Linked DNA regions of Homo sapiens: region 1 is linked to region 2. A link means that fine-mapping ties the variant in region 2 to the expression of a gene that starts in the linked region. Tissue or cell type: whole blood. Region 2 holds a variant in brackets; the other region holds the start of a gene. All regions are shown on one strand. Distances are from middle to middle.

The links. PIP is the estimated chance that this variant, and not a neighbour inherited with it, causes the effect.
Region 1: CD63 starts here. The variant in region 2 is fine-mapped to the expression of CD63 in whole blood (INTERVAL, PIP 0.97).

What each region holds. Positions count from the first base shown.
Region 1 is chr12:55,725,386-55,733,492 of GRCh38, forward strand. It overlaps CD63 (CD63 molecule), which reads right to left and starts at 3,624. Exons shown (of 8, transcript NM_001780.6): 1 at 3,568-3,624; 2 at 2,891-2,967; 3 at 1,766-1,954; 4 at 1,505-1,579; 5 at 1,315-1,410; 6 at 736-876; 7 at 428-511; 8 at 1-241. The coding sequence starts at 2,956. The coding sequence ends at 176. It overlaps CD63-AS1 (CD63 antisense RNA 1), which reads left to right and starts at 3,709. Exons shown (of 2, transcript NR_183514.1): 1 at 3,709-3,970; 2 at 4,277-5,467. RefSeq lists silencers at 3,021-3,320, 3,591-3,970 and an enhancer at 3,450-4,056.
Region 2 is chr12:55,193,361-55,201,467 of GRCh38, forward strand. It overlaps the pseudogene OR10U1P. Among named protein-coding and RNA genes, the nearest start is that of OR10A7, 24 kb to the right of the region's middle. The variant G/A (reference allele first, on the strand shown) is at 3,540.

The DNA of each region.
Region 1 (8,107 bases), 530 kb after region 2:
TGCATTAAGGTCCCAGAGGACAGGGAACATCAGTAAGGAAAGGAAGGAATCAAGCATCACTCTAAGACAAACTCAGACCATCTCTTTTCGGTCTGAAAAAATAATCCGTTTAATTGAAAAACCTGGAGGATACTATTCCACTCCCCCAGATGAGGAGGCTGAGGAGACCAGACCCCTACATCACCTCGTAGCCACTTCTGATACTCTTCACGAGGCAGCAGGCAAAGACAATTCCCAAAACCTAGAAGGAAAGATGGGGACAGGGGTGGAGAGGAGTCAGAAGGGCTAGCTACCTCAGACCCATGCAAGAGACTCCAAACACACACTCCCAGGCCAGTACCTCCTGTTCAGCACCCTCCTCCCCTCAGCCCCTTCCCTCCAGGCACCCTGGACAGAGTCCCAGCCCCTGCTCAGGGTTATCTCTTACCTCGACAAAAGCAATTCCAAGGGCTGCTGCAGCTACCACCAGCACATTTTTCCTCAGCCAGCCCCCAATCTTCTCCACACAGCCCTGAAGGTGGCAGGCACAAAGGACAAAAGCACCATCAGAAACTTCCCACCCCAACCCCCTCCCTTGGTCCATCAGTCTCTTCCCTGCCCCTGTACCTTTCACCCCACCCTTAGCATTTCCAGATCCCCTCCCCATCCCTGACCCTGTCCACCTCCATCCTGGGTCTCTTGCATTCTAAAACATTTCCCAGGTTTCCCAAGTCCCATACACAGTCTCCTCCCTACCTCCTTATGGATCGCCTTCTCGTTGAAATTAATCCCACAGCCCACAGTAACATTAATGCAGCAGGAGTCGGGGACTCGGTTCTTCGACATGGAAGGGATTTTCTCCCAATCTGTGTAGTTAGCAGCCCCACAGCACTTAAACTGGGGGAGGGAAGAAATATGGAGAAGAAGGTTGTTAAGTGAACCTTCACCTTCAATATGGAGATGAGAATTCTTTTTTTTTTTTTTTTTTTTTTTTTGAGACAGAGACTTGCTCTGTTGCCCAGACAAGTGCCCAGCGGTGGCTCAATCTCGGCTCACTGCAACCTCCGCCTCCCGGGTTCAAGCGATTCTCCTGCCTCACCCTCCTGAGTAGGTGGGATTACAGGCACTCACCACCACACCTGGCTAATTTTTGTATTTTTAGTAGAGACAGGGTTTCACCACGTTGGCCAGGCTAGTCTTGAACTTCTGACCTCAGGTGATCTGCCCACCTCGGCCTTCAAAAGTGCTGAGATTACAGGCGTGAGTCACCACACCCAGCCTTGGAGATGAGAATTCTCTATTCCCACCACCCCTGCTCCCAGCAACCCCACTCACATCTGCCTGCATCCTGTCCAGGATCGAAGCAGTGTGGTTGTTTTTCGGGTAATTCTCCATCTGCTGCCGGAAGTTGTTATTAAACTCTGACATCACCTGAGAGTACGGAGGAGCACTGTTGCAGTCAGAATTCAAGCACCAGGGTCCCAGACCCGGCTGAGGCAGGCCCTTCCCATTATTCCCTGCTTACCTTATCTCTAAACACATAGCCAGCAATGGCTGCGGCCACCTCCACCAACATGATAAGAGACAGAAAGATGGCAAACTGCAGGAGCAAAGGACAGAAGTCAAGTTTGGAGTCTATGCATTACAGGGGCCCGTTTTGGCACAGCCGGTCCCTGGACACTCACAAAGGTCTTCCTCACCCACCCACCTCACCCACCTTCCTGAGCCCGAACCAAGCTGCTCTGGCAGTCCCAGACCGCCCATGTTGGTCCCGCCCCCAACTCACCGTGATCATAAGACAATAGTTCTCCTTGCAGGCCCCGCAGCAGCCCACAAAAGCCACCAGGAAGAGGAAGACACCCACTGCGATGATGACCACTGGCAACAGAGAGCCAGGGGTAGCCCCCTGGATTATGGTCTGACTCAGGACAAGCTGTGCCCCGACACCCACGGCAATCAGTCCCACTGCACAGGCCTAAGAGAAAATCAGGTGAGGATTAGGCCATATCCACAACACAGTGGCCCTCCATGGTGGAGGGCAGGGGGTACACCTAGGACACAGACTTGACCCCATCCGGAAGAGAGATTCTCACACCTCTAGGGAATTTCTTTGGCTGTGGGGTAGGGGGATGACCCATCCTTGCCTGCCCCTACCTCCCCTGATCCCCTCCCGGCTCTTTAATCAGGGACATGACCAAATTCAAAAACCTCCCAGAAAGCCTTGACCTCAAGACACGTATTTCTGACCTAGAATAATGCTTTCTACAGGCCTCCAGGGCTCCCAGCTCAATTCTCTCCCAGAACTGCCCCCTCACTATCCTCCAGTGCACATCCCACGCGCGCATCAGCTGTGACTAAGGTTCCTCTGGCCAGTTAGGCCAGGAGAAGGGAAGAGGAAAAGGGAGCAAGAGTGATGTGTCCCTCCCTAGACAAACAGTAGCCTCTCAAGCCAGGAGCCCAGGGCAGGAGCAAATTGAAGTGGGCAGAGCCCTTCCTCACCCCCAAGCGCTGGGAGGAGGGAAAGGGGGAGAGGGGCTGGACAGGGATGAGAGGGTTGGGGAGGGAGAGAGGGGAGAAGGGAGAGCGAAGGGAAGCCCCATGGCGATAGCATCAGGCGGTTGGCTGGTTGCCCCACTGCCCCATATCACAAGTGGTTGGGTCACCAGACAGGAAGGGCCAGGAGGGATGGGGGTAGGGGTTGCTGCACACCCAGGATGGCCATTCTCGGTGGAAACAAGCCTCAGGTGTCCAGGAAAACTGGAGGAGGGAGTGGCTGCGCTGTCTTTCCCTGGCTTTCTTTCCACATCTGGTCTCCAGCTGCCTTAATTCTCATTCCCTCAGCCCTCACCACTGTGGAGCCAGGTCTCCCCGCACCCTGCCGGCGCGCCCCCCAGGACCCCTCGCCACTCACGCAAAAGGCCAGCAGGAGGACGTAGAGCAAGAACTTCACACATTTCATTCCTCCTTCCACCGCCATGGCTGCCGGGCCTGGGGCAGAGGGGAGGGCGGGGGGATTAAAACTGGCCGAAGGGGGACCTCGGTTTCCGGGCTCCCGGCCGGCCCTCGAGGGCTTCCCTTCACGGCCCCGATTCCCGGCCCCTCCCACCCGGAAACCCGCGGTCGGATCCACGTCTCCCAGCCCCCTCTTTACCCGCAGGAGAGGGGTGGGGGCGACGGCCGCGAAGCCCGGACCCCGCCCCGCCGCCTCTGGGGCCCAGGACAGATCCAAGGGCGCCGGCAGGGGCTTGAGCCTGACGCCGACCCTCGGCCCGCCAGTCTCCGGGCGTCAAACACCCTTTCCCCACCCAACACCCAGCCTGGAGAAACGGTCTTCAGCCCAACCCCGACCCCCGCCCCAGCCCCTTTCCCCTGGGCTCTGACCTCCCCGCCCACCAAAAAAAAAAAAAGTGCAGCCAGCACCCCCGCCACACCCTGCCCGGGCCCAGGGAACTTCGAAGCAAAGTTGCTCCAGGGCGGCTGGAGAGCGCCGGACGAGTCTCCGCGGGCCTGGGGCGAGCCCTGGAGGAAGGGACTGCGGGTGGTCTCTCCCAGCCCGCGCCGAAGTCCGCCGGGTCCCCGCGGCCTCACCTGGGCTTCCCAAGGCTGGCTGCGCGTTCCTCTCCCGCCGCGGCTCCGGGGCTCTCTAGCTGCGCCCCCCGGCTCCCGCCCCGCCTGCCGCGCGGCCCCGCCCCGGGCTCCAGCCACGGTCCCCTCCCCCGCCGAGTGGCCGCCGGCCTCCCTCATGTGACGCGGTAACAGCTGCGGCCTGAGTCACTGGGCCCGGCGCGGGGTGGGCCGAGCCCCCCGCCCGGCCAGGGCCACGTGGCCCCTACCCGGAAGAAGGCGCCCACCCCCGCAAAGGGAAAGCCGCAAGGGCAAGACCTCGGGGCGCCTGGGGCCCCCCTCTGGCGCTATACCTCCGTGCCAACTCGGGGTAGGAGAGCGGGGCGGAGCGCAGCCTGGGTCACTCTGGTTCAGAGAAGCGGACGAGGTGGGTGAGAGTTACCCTCTGAGCGCCGGGGCGGAGAGCTGAGGCCGGGTGACAATGTGGTCTGTGAGGTTTCCCCATCCTACCGTAGGGGATGAGCCAGCTCTCTCCTCTGGCTCCAACTCTGTGCAAGCCCCCTCCCCATCCGACTGTGCAGACAGCTGGGGACTGCCTGGGGTCGGGTGGGGCCAGAACAAACACTTCCAGAAAGTCCCTGGCTCACATCCTGGGTGTCTCCCAACATTCTACAGCATTCTAGAGTGGGGATTTCTGGCCCCCCTCTATTAGCACAGCTTCTCCATTTTCCAGGGATCCTAGTCTGAGAAAAGGGGAGGAAGCCCTTCCCCGAAGCCACGCTACCCAGTCAATCAAGACACGTCCGCGTCGGGTCCCGCCCTCTGGGGGAGGATTGACAAGGTCTGTGCTTCCAGCCTCCCAGACAGCTCCTGCATCCGTCTGTGATAGCGAGGGCTTGGGGGAAGACACGAAGGCAGGAGAGGCTTACATCCTCTGGATTTCCCCGTCTTATCCCAGAAGACAAAGCCAGGTGAGGGCTGGAAGCGGGCTAGGGGGATCAAGCTGCCTCCCTCCCTTGTGTGCCAGGGGTGGTCCCCAGAAGGAGCTGATCTGAACAGGCCGGAGAGTAGGACCGGCCGTCACACCCCCACACCTCCAGCCTCGGCCCCACTCCTTGGGCTCTTAAGGTCCTGCCTCAAGAACCACTTCCTGAGTCTTAGTGTATGTGTGTACACAAAGAATGAAAGAAGTCTCTAGAGCTAAAGGAAGGAGATCCGGGCTGGGCTGAGAAGCATCTTCCAGGATCACGGCCTTCCCGCGGGACACACCAAGCCCATTCCGGATCTTGCTCTTCCTGACCATGGCTGGCAGGCTGTGGAGGAGGAGCGGAGAGCAGAAGAAAGGAGTATTCATCAGGTTCCTTATTGTGCTGCCACTAGATGCCAGGCATGTGCTAGGCTTGGGGGCTGCAAGGAGAGGAAGACAGCGGCCCTGCCCTCTGCTAGCAGGCAGAACCGAGTTCTGGCCACACTGTGAAGAAAGGCAGAAGCCTGCGGTGGCAGCTGGTTAAGCTCAGAGGGAGGGAAAGGGAGAGGAGAATGGATTTCACGGAGCAGAAGGATGTGCTCAAGGTGACCTTGGAGAATAAAGGGGAGAGCTCCAGGGACAGAGAAGCAGTCGACTGTGGAAAAAAAAGGAGCATTTTGTAAAGTACATGGCAGGTTGGGGTTGGCTGGCTCAAAGGGCTTGGGACGGATGTGGTGAGATGGGCTGAAGGTGGTCTGAAGATCAAGATTGAGAGACTAGATACATAACAACCAACTGCAATGTTTGGTCCTTCATTGAATGGTTGAACAAACCAGCTGTGAAAGACATTTTGGGACATACAGACATGGACTGAGAATTAGACATAAGAAAATTATTTTGTTAACTGTTATCATGGTTAACAAAACGGTCATATAATATGATTATGTAGAGAAGTTACTCTAGTTTTTCCTCTTTTTTTTTCTTTATTCTCCTATCAGCCAATGCATTTGTTACAGGAAAGGGGTCCCAATCCAGACCACAAGAGAGGGTTCTTGGATCTCATGCAAGAAAGATTCAGGGCGAGTCGCAGTGCAAAGTATAAGCAAGTTTATTAAGAAAGTAAAGTGGTGAAACAACAGCTGCTCCATAGACAGAGTAGGATGTTCCCCAAAGTAAGAGGAGGGGCTAGGCGCAGTGGCTCACCACACCTGTAATCCCAGCATTTTGGGAGGCCTAGGCAGGTGGATCACCTGAGGTCAGGAGTTCGAGACCAGCCTGGCCAACACGGTGAAACCCCGTCTCTACTAAAAATACAAAAAGTAGCTGGGCACAATGATGTGTGCCTGTAGTCCCAGCTACTCAGGAGGCTGAGGCAGGAGAATCACTTGAACCCAGGAGGCAGAGGTTGCAGTGAGCAGAGATCGTGTTGCTGCATGCCATCCTGGGCAACAAGAGTGAAACTCCGTCTCTCTTTTTTTTTTTTTTTTTTTTGAGACGGAGTCTCGCTCTGTCACCAGGGTGGAGTGCAGTGGTGCCATCTTGGCTCACTGCAACCTCCGCCTCCCGTGTTCAAGTGATTCTCCTGCCTCAGCCTCCCAAGTAGCTGGGACTACAGGCACGCACCACTACGCCCAGCTAATTTTTGTGTTTTTAGTAGAGATGGGGTTTCACCATATTGGCCAGGATGGTCTCCATCTATTGACCTCGTGATCCGCCCCCTCAGCCTTCCAAAGTGCTGGGATTACAGGCGTGAGCCACTGTGCCCGGCAAAACTCTGTCTCAAAAAAAAAAAGTAAGAGGAGGAACACATTCACCCTCGGTATAATGCTTGTATATATGGAGAGATGTGCTCTGCTACAAAAGTTTGTGATAAAGGATTAATTTTCTTAATTACTGTATTTTGTAAGAATCGATATTATCTTTTTTATTATTATTAATTTGTTTCCTTAACCATAAACATCTAGGTTTTTTGTTTTTGTTTTTGTTTTTGAGATGGAGTTTTGCTCTTGTTGCCCAGGCTGGAGTGCAGTGGCACAACTCACCACAACCTCTGCCTCCCAGGTTCAAGAGATTCTCCTGCCTCAGCCTCCTGAGTAGCCGGGATTACAGGCATGCGCCACCATGCCTGGATAATTTTGTATTTTTAGTAGAGCCGATATTGTGCCATTGCACTCCAGCCTGGGCAACAGAGCGAGACTCTGTCTCAAAGAAAAAGAAAGAAAGATGAAAATGTTGTGGAGATGGATGGTGCTGATGGTTGCACAATGTGTATGTACTCAATGTCCCTGAATTTTATGTTATATATATTTTACTACACACATACACACAAAGAATGGCCCACTTCTACAGCCTGGAAAGTTGACACAGAGCTCCATGTGTTTGCTGGGGTGCAGGATAGAGGGGCCTCTTAGTGGGAAGTGGCTGATCTCAGACCTGGCCCTTCACATCCTTCAGATCCCCCAGCACCTGTTCCAAGTGCCTGACATCCAGATATGCCACCAAGCCGTCCTGGCTGGCCCAGGCTGCTGCCTCTTGGTTGCCTGGCACCAGTTGGTGGTAGGTGTGCTGAGGCGGGGACCCTTGTCCCTCCACACCAAGCAAAGCCAGCTTTCCCTCCAGCTTCACCACGCCTCCACCTAGGCCCAGCGACACAGCATGGGGGCCACAGATGTCTCAAGCAAACCTGCAGCCTTCTGAGAGCATGTAGGCATCAGCCAGACCCAGTGCCATGCACAGCAGCTTGTAGCCTGCATCTAAGCACAGGAAAGGGTGAGGGGATATGAGGAGGGTGAGGGGATATGAGGAAGGTGAGGAAGAAAGAAGGGATCCAGAATCAAGGGAAAAGAACAGTTGAGGAGAGTTGGGAGAGGGGTGAGGAAAAACCGGAAAGTGAGAGACATAGAGGAGGGTGGGAGGCATGGGGAAGGATGGGGGAAGAGGAGGCAAAAATACATGAAGGATCAATGCTTCTTGGGCTTCAGTTTAAAAAACATTTTCTTTAATTTTTGAAAAATAGGTGTAAGAGAGGAGTGGGGAGAGGGAAGAGGAAGAGATAGGGATGGGAGGGAAGAAGGAAACAAGGATGCATCATCAAAGCCATCCCCCCACTGGGAGGGTAAGGAGAGTGGTGGATAAAATTCAAGGTCCAGAGGTTGGGTCTGAAATGGGGGCCTGAAATTTAAGTCCAGAGGCCTCAGCTTTGGATAAGGATAGAGGCACGGTGCTTGATGGCATCTCTCAGATCGCAGGGTGAAGGAGGGGCTGCACCTGCGCGTTTGCAGGTCCTGCTGGCAGAAAAGCTCATAGACCATCCCGCAGGGCTCTCCAGAGAGTAGGTTATATGCCCCAGCACCAGCACTGAGTGCAGCCCCCAGGGGAGTACTGTGCACGGGCTCCATGGCGACATCACCACTATGTATTTACTGGTTGGTGGAGACTGGGGAACACAAAGGAGTCTCCAGGCCAGGCGCGGTGGCTCACGCCTATAATCCTAGCACTTTGGGAGGCCGAGGCGGGTGGATCACCTGAGGTCAAGAGTTTGAGACCAGCCTGGACAACACAGTGAAACCCCATCTCTACTACAAATACAAAAATTAG
Region 2 (8,107 bases):
ACACCACTCATTAGTATTTATTAACAGTTGGTTATTTAATATGTATGACCTTAAGATGTACAGAGAGCACACTAATTAAAGGAGCATACTCCAATTAAGAACTTAAATTCTAATAGACTATATTTGATACTAAAATAGTATTACTTCCTGTTTATTTCATTTTTTGTTTTATACTCATAAAGGATATTTCATTTTCCTCAGGAAAATGGCATGAAACATACTGGACTTAATGCTATTACCACTGGAGAAGGAGAAAATGGTAGCTTGACACATGAGATGCCCTGTAAATACTGTTGAATGAATGAATGATTAACAATTGAATGAATCTACTGTGTAGTTTCCTTTTACTTACAGACATTGAAAAATGTGTGACAAATCCAAATGTTTTTTGGTAGCTAGGCTATAAATGCTTTAATAAAAGAATATGTTGGTAGAAGAATCATAAAATCGGGTAACCTCTCTGTACAGTAGCATAGGTTTCAGCTACTATGACTGGTTTAGGCCGTTTGTCTAAGAGAGTTCCTTTGGGTTATCCTTTGAAAGGCTTCCTTTACTTCCTTGTTCCTCAAGGTATAGATAACAGGATTCAAAGCAGGTGTGACCATTGTGTACATGAGTGCAGTTGCTTTGTCTGTTTCTGGAGTGTGTGCAGTCTTAGGTTGCAGATAAGTGAACAAGGCAGTGCCATAGAACAGAGAAACAACCAAGATATGAGAAGAACAAGTGGAGAAAGCTTTGTGTCTTCCAGCTGCTGAAGGGATTCTCAAGATGGTCACAGGGATGTGCATGTGGGAGCACAGAATGAGGAAACAAGGACTCACAATAAATAGCACGGAGAGAGAAAACATCACAATTTCAATTTGGGAGGTATCAATACAAGCCAGTTTCAGTACAGGCATTATGTCACAAAAAAGTGTTGAATCTTTCCTGTTCCACAGAAAGGCAAAGTGAAGATCAGGGTGATCTGGGCTGACTCCACCACCACTCCAGTGAACCAAGATGCTGCAGCCAATTTCAAACAAACACGAGGGCCCATGAAGAGAGTGTAATGCAGTGGGTAACAAATAGCTACAAAGCGATCGTAAGCCATAGCTGCTAGCAAGCAGCATTCTGTCAGTCCCAAGATGGCAAATATGTACATCTGGGTTGCACAGCCACCCACACTTATGGTTTTGGTCTCCACCAGCAGGTGCACCAGCATGAGGCACCACACTGGTGGTATAGCACATCTCCAGAAATGAGAGGTTCACCAGGAAGAAATACATTGGAGTGTGCAGGGCAGGGGTGATCCAGATCAGGGAGATGATGATGATATTTCCTCCTATAGTGCATAAGTGATGATTAAGAACACAATGAAGAGTACAAGCTGTAATTCTTCTATAGAAGAAAAAGCCACAAATGTGAATTTGGCACACAGGGACTGATTTCCATCTATGGTGGGCTCAGAGCTAAACATCTGTGCAGACAACAAAGAAGGCAGGTTAATGGGAATGCAGTCACCTAACACATCTCTCTACTGAACCACAGCAAAGGAGCTTTCCTAGAATCAGTAGTCTGAGATGAGAATCTAGACACCTGGATTTCTTCTGTTAAATCTTTCTAAACTACACAATTACATCGAATACATATTTCTTCCTGATTTTAAGTTATGGATTATATGCAATTTTCACAAACATTTGGAAAAAACAATGGTTTTTAAGTTGCATATTCTGAATCTTTTGTTTTTGTCTTATCACTAATTATATACAGAAGCTATTATGCAAGCAATATATGAAGACTTATAATTTTAAAGGAGTCACATAAAAATTAATAGATTCAGATGTAAAGGTGTTATACTCTGGTCTTCCAAATTCTATAACCTTCCTTAAAGCTACACTTAAGGGCTTAAAAGGGAATATATTTCCAGCTGTTTATCTATGTATTTATGTACATATTTTACTTGATCTGAACAGAATAAGCAAATAATTACAAAGCTAAGATCCAAGAAAGCCAAAATCGACAGAATCTCCTTTCTACAACCTCAGTGTAAATTTGCAAGAAATTACAAATAGGAGAACATACCTAGAACCACAAGGTAAGCTTTCTTTTCCTTTTTGGGCTCCTAGACTTCCTATGGCTCTAAATTATAGCACAGTGATAGAATAGGCAGTATTTTTATTTCTACTAGAGACCATAGGGAATACATCCACTGTGCAGCTTAATTATATTTGTCTCAAGAGGAGTATATTAAAAACAATGAGTGTTTAATGTGCAAGTTGGTTTTCAGTTGTTAAAGACATTTCCAGAGATACCTATTGCTGTCAGTTATATCACCTGTTCCAATGCATAAAACTAAAAGTTGCTAATTGGAACCCATCATACAACTGAAATTATTATTAAACTCTATGGATGTTTGCCATAGTAATCCTTTTTAAGCTCCTCAAATGGACAGTGACTAATTAGGCCTTTGTAATATTGGTAGGCACAGTGCATGGAACATAGTAGCCTCCATAAACCCCCAAAATAGCATTCACTTTATTCATTATTTATTATTCAATTGCTAGCAGCATTAAAAAAATAGGCACGGGAAGAAAACCCCAAATTTCCAATGGAATTAATTAAAGTAATTGGTCAAAAACATTAAAAAATGTATTTTTCTTCTACTGTCTTCAAGAAATGAAAATATTTTTCATTCTGAATGATCCCCATTGCTCCATTCCGGACACATTTTCTTTTCACTGTCAGGTCAATATGGTAAATTCATTGGGACATAGAGTAAGGCAAGTAAAAGAGGTTACAAGATCGATCAGTTTTGAAACTAATGCGTTAGATGGGACTGCTATTCTCGCCTCCCACGATTCCCATGCCAAACCAAAAGGCAGGAGTTTTAGACATTGTCTCTCCCTCCTAAAAAAATATGTATGCTTTTTTTGTGCCACTCATGCTGCCTCAGAGATGAAAGCCATGTGTTTTGGGGAGTGCTCTTCCATCAGTGTGGAGGTACTGCCAGAATGAATATACCACATTGAGAATGTTTAGGTTGGTGCAAAATTAATTGCGGGTTTTTGCCATTACTTTGCACCAACCTAATATTTAAGAAAACGCATTCTATTTGATGGTATAGCATCCCTGAAATACTGCAGCAGAAGGTCACATCATGCATAATCAGTGATATTTTGCCAAATCTCCCCACCAGGGTCTGGGAGTAAGAGTAAGTACATAGCTGTATTTCTTTGATATGTTTTTGCCACAAAATACTTACAAAACAAAAACAGCTGCTAATTTCTCCACATTAATTCCCACCTGGACTCTGTGTTGTGTTTATTTCTCAATCTGATTCTGAAATTAGAGGAATTTTTTTTAAATATGGATACATGATTGGATGTGGGGTATTTAAGTGAGAATAGTAAAAAGTCCTCTCCTGCTGCCTCAGATCTGCTTTTATCCTGAGTAAGTGGGTAAGAGGAAACAATGTTTGGTGAGATAATGGCCAGATTAGTATATGCACTACTGATAATAACAACAACATATAGACTCCAGATTCCATCATGCTATCTATC[G/A]CACATCCTCCTAGAGTCCAGGAGTTTTTCAATGGTCCTGGAAAAAGTACTTGAGATGAAAGGGTGCATCTTATCTATGTGGTATTTTTGAAGGCAAGAAAAGAGAGTATTTAGGAAGGGAGTGATCAACTGCACCAAATATTTCTGAGATGGTGTGAAAAAATAGCTTTTAATTATCTGTTGACTTTTAGCTCCACACAGGCTATTGATGACTTCAGAAAAAAATAATTTGGAAAGAGAAGTAAGAACATGAACCAGAGTGAAGTTGTTTTTGAGGAAATAGAATTTTAAAAATGAAAAAAACCAGTAGGAGCAATACATTCTAGAAATTTGGCCATGAAGGGCAGGAGGAAGACAGGGTAATAACTGGAGAAAATGAAAGGACAGGACACAATGACTTATTGTGATTCACTACGTTTTTAAGATGGGAGAACCATGAGCTTTTTTATTTTTATTTATTTTTATTTATTTTTTTGAGATGGAGTCTCGCTCTGACCCCCAGGCTGGAGTGCAATGGCGCAATCTTGACTCACTGTAAACTCCGCCTCCAGGGTTCAAGTGATTCTCTTGCCTCAGCCTCCCAAGTACCTGGGATTACAGGCACCCACCACCGCGCCCGGCTAATTTTTGTATTTTTAATAGAGACGGGGTTTTGCCATCTTGGCCAGGCTGGTTTTGAACTCCTGACCTCAGGTGATCCGCCCACCTTGGCCTCTCAAAGTGCTGGGATTATAGGCGTGAGCCACCACACCTGGCCTTAATAGCTGGTGTGAAGGAGCCATCTAACACACAGCTTTTCTTTCCCGCATTTTGAAAATAAAACAGTACAACTTTAATTTCAGTTTTTGATTTTTGAATTAAAAGTGTAATTTAAAACTATGAGTATCTCATGGTAGAACAATTACAAATAAACATGTTTATAATATTAAGTCCTTGGGCTTACACTGTTTGATATGAGATGAGGATTCATTGTAATGTCATTCCAAAACATGTTTTATGAGAGTTAATTTATCCATCACTTGTAACAGTATGAAGATCATCTTTGTCAATAGAAATAATATGATCAACATAGCAGCTAATAGTTTTAGTGTTTACCATTTGTTAGATACATGTTTCACTATATAGATATATGTATATGTATCTCCTCATTTAATTTTTATAACAATTTTCTGAAAGAGTTATTGTTATCTCCATTATAAAGACCAGGAAACTTAAATATAGTCATTATGTAATTTCCCGAAGTATTATAGGTACAAAAGAGTAGAGTTGGGTTCTGAAGTCAGTTAATACCAGCATATATATTCTTCCTTTTATTTTATTGTCCTATGCTCTTTCTTCTAGATTAATTTAACTATAATGAATGATAAAAATTGTGTTAAGAAACACTGTGAGAATACCTAAATCTCTGTGATCAGATTACTAATAGAGATATATATGTTAAAGGCACTTCTGGTAAGGGTTTAGAAGGAAATAAATGGTGTGTTATTGGAATGTGAAGGAAAAAGCATCCTTGCTCTATAGTGGCAGAAAGTTTAGCAGAATTGTATCCTGCAGTTGTGTGGAAAGGAATCCTTAAAAATGATGGACTTGTATATTTAACTGAGGAAGTTTCCAAGTTTTGAAATCTCTTGCTATTTATACTAAATGTGAGAGGAGAAAGGATAAGTTGAGGTAAGAAATATCAAATGAAAAGGAATCAGGAGTTGATTTCAAAAAATGTAATGTTATCAAATTAGAGTCAATGTAATTTAGCAGTTAAGGGGAATGGGCTTTGGGGTCAGAATGCTTAAATATTTACCCTCATTCTCAACTTATAACTATGATTTAGGGCAATAAAAATCTTTTTTTGTGTGTTCATGTATTGATTTATAATGTGGCAATATAAATATTTTATGCTTAATTAAACTTTTGTAAAAATTAAAGGCATAGTGATATCAGGAACATGGAATAGGAAGCTCCTAACTCCCCCTCCACCCATGGATTCACCAAGTAAACATCTGTTCACACATCAGTTCCCTTTGAGTGAAAGTCTGAGACCAGTTGAGAGACTCCTATCCACTGGGAAACTGAGAAAACATTTACATTGAAGAGGTAGGAAAAACCAAGGCATACATGGACACAGACCCAGCTATAAGCACTGCACCATAAAATTGGGAATGAAACACCCAACATTCAGCTTCTCCCTGTGGAGAAGAGGGTCTGGACCCCAGTAGAGGGTCTTAATCCTAAGTTTCCCCTTGGTTTAACTTTTGAGTCATCAACTATGGGAATGGAGGATATCAGACACAAATGTGTCTCTCTAGACAGTAAAGAATAAAGTGGCAGTTTTATATGGGTGCACAGGCACTTTTAGATACTGCATCTACCTGGGAGCATTGCAGGAAATAAACTTAAAAAACAGTCCTTTGTTTCTCCCTGGAAACATCTCGAAAGGCTGCGTAGCCGTTGGATTTCTGCCTAACTTGCATTGGAGAATTAAAAAGATAGTCAATTCTTAGCCCATTTTCCAACCCTGGAGAAATTTGCACTAACACTTGATATAGTTTGGCTTTGTGTCCCCACCCAAATCTCATGTTGAATTGTAATCCTGAATGTTGGAGGAGGGACCTGGTGGGAGGTGACTGGATCATGGGAGCAGATTTTCCCCTTGGTGTTCTCATGATAGTGAGTGAGTTCTCATGAGATCTGGTTGTTTAAAAGTCTGCAGCACCTCCCACTTCTTGCTTCCTCCCTCTTCAGCCATGTAAGACATGTCTGCTTCCCCTTTGCTTTCTACCATGATTGTAAGTTTCCTGAGGCCTCCTCAGCCATGCTTTCTATACAGTTTGTGAAACTGTGAGTGAATTAAACCTCTTTTCTTTATAAATTACCCAGTCAGGTAGTTCTTGATAGCAATGCAAGAATAGACTAATACATACTGAAACGTCAAACTATCACTTCACTTAGGGACTGCATCCTAAATCTCCTGGATCTGAGAGCAGAAAGGACTGGCATGTACATATCTCTCTACACTGCAGAAAAAAGTGGTATTTCAGATACATACCAGTTTTAGATTATCTGTATTGCTCCAGATAAAATCCCTTGAGGCTTATGCAAGCAACTTCAGGGATTTTATCTCCCTGGAGCAATAAGGAGAATCTAAATCTCCTGGCTCTGGGAACAGAAAGGACTGGCATACATACGTCTGTCTACACTGCAGAAAAAAAGTGGCATTTCAGACAGGCATGCAAGCACCTCCAGGGAGTTTATCTCACTGGAGCAATACAGAAAAGGGGCTTAAAAAGATGCTCTCTCTGTGTTTTCCCAGAAGAAATAGAGGTCACACATAGAGAACAAAAAGTTCTAACTCTACTTCCCAAGAACTCCACCCTAAACCTAGTAGTTCTGGAAGCAGAAGAGATTAGGCATATGCAAGTCTCCCTTGATCACAGAACTGAGAGGTGATACTAAATGGGTATCCAAACACTTCCAGATGCACCATTCCCTTGGTACAGTGCAGAAAGGGGGCAGGAATGTGCACTCTCACATTCTTTCAATAAGGAGCATATAACACACACTCCCAGTGGCTACCTGATGGCCTGGTTTCTAATGAACTTATATTGAGAAGCTAACAGGACAAAGAAACAACAAGCTTTTGGTTGCCAAAGCAAGAGCGAGGTACTTTCTGAGACCTCTTCTCAGCTTACTCCAGAGATAAATCCAGGCCTATTCATTCTTTCTGGAAGAAATTTAGCTATGTATCAAATGCCACAACTTCCATAGCTCCCACCTAAGGAACTGTCTCCTTAGAGACCTAGCTTTGAAATCAAGGGGGCTTTGTGAATCTGAGTGACCCAAGACCACAGAAAACAAACATGTAGACATATAGTAGGACCATTTCCAGAAGCTCTCTGTCTAGGATAAGAAAATGTAGCCTGCATGTGAGAACAGGCATTTGCTGCAGATCCCCTTCCTAGTTTAGTGCAGAGAGACTACAAGATAAATGCCCACCATCATCTTCACCATGAAAATAGAAAGAACTAGAACACATATCAAAAACCTCAACCTTTTCAGCTTCATCCTAAGAGCTTAGCTCTTATACTGATAACAGAGTACTGACAAAATGTGACATGCCCTAAGCTCCAGAGGGCCACCAAAAACCAAGATAGCAATCTGGACAAACACACAGATTTTGGAGGCATCTTAAAATCTTTGGCCAGTTGAATTGGCAAAACCTTCTCATACACAAGACCAGTCTAACAAGATGAAGAGAGGTAATCTTATCTAATTTGCAGAAACCAAAAGAGGGAATCAAGGAAAATAAAGAAAGAGGGGATTATATTCCAGACAAAAGTACAAGTAACCATCCAGAAACAGAAACAAATACAAAGAACTAGAAAAGCAATAGCAAACCAAACTAAAAATAAGGCAAAGAAAAGGAATAATAAAGATCAGATCATAAATAAATAAAATTGAAACAAAATAATACTAAATATCAACAAAACAAAACTTTTTTTTGAAAAGTTAAACAAATTTGACAAACCTTTAACCAGACTAAGAAAAAAAGAGAGAAGACACAAATAAATAAA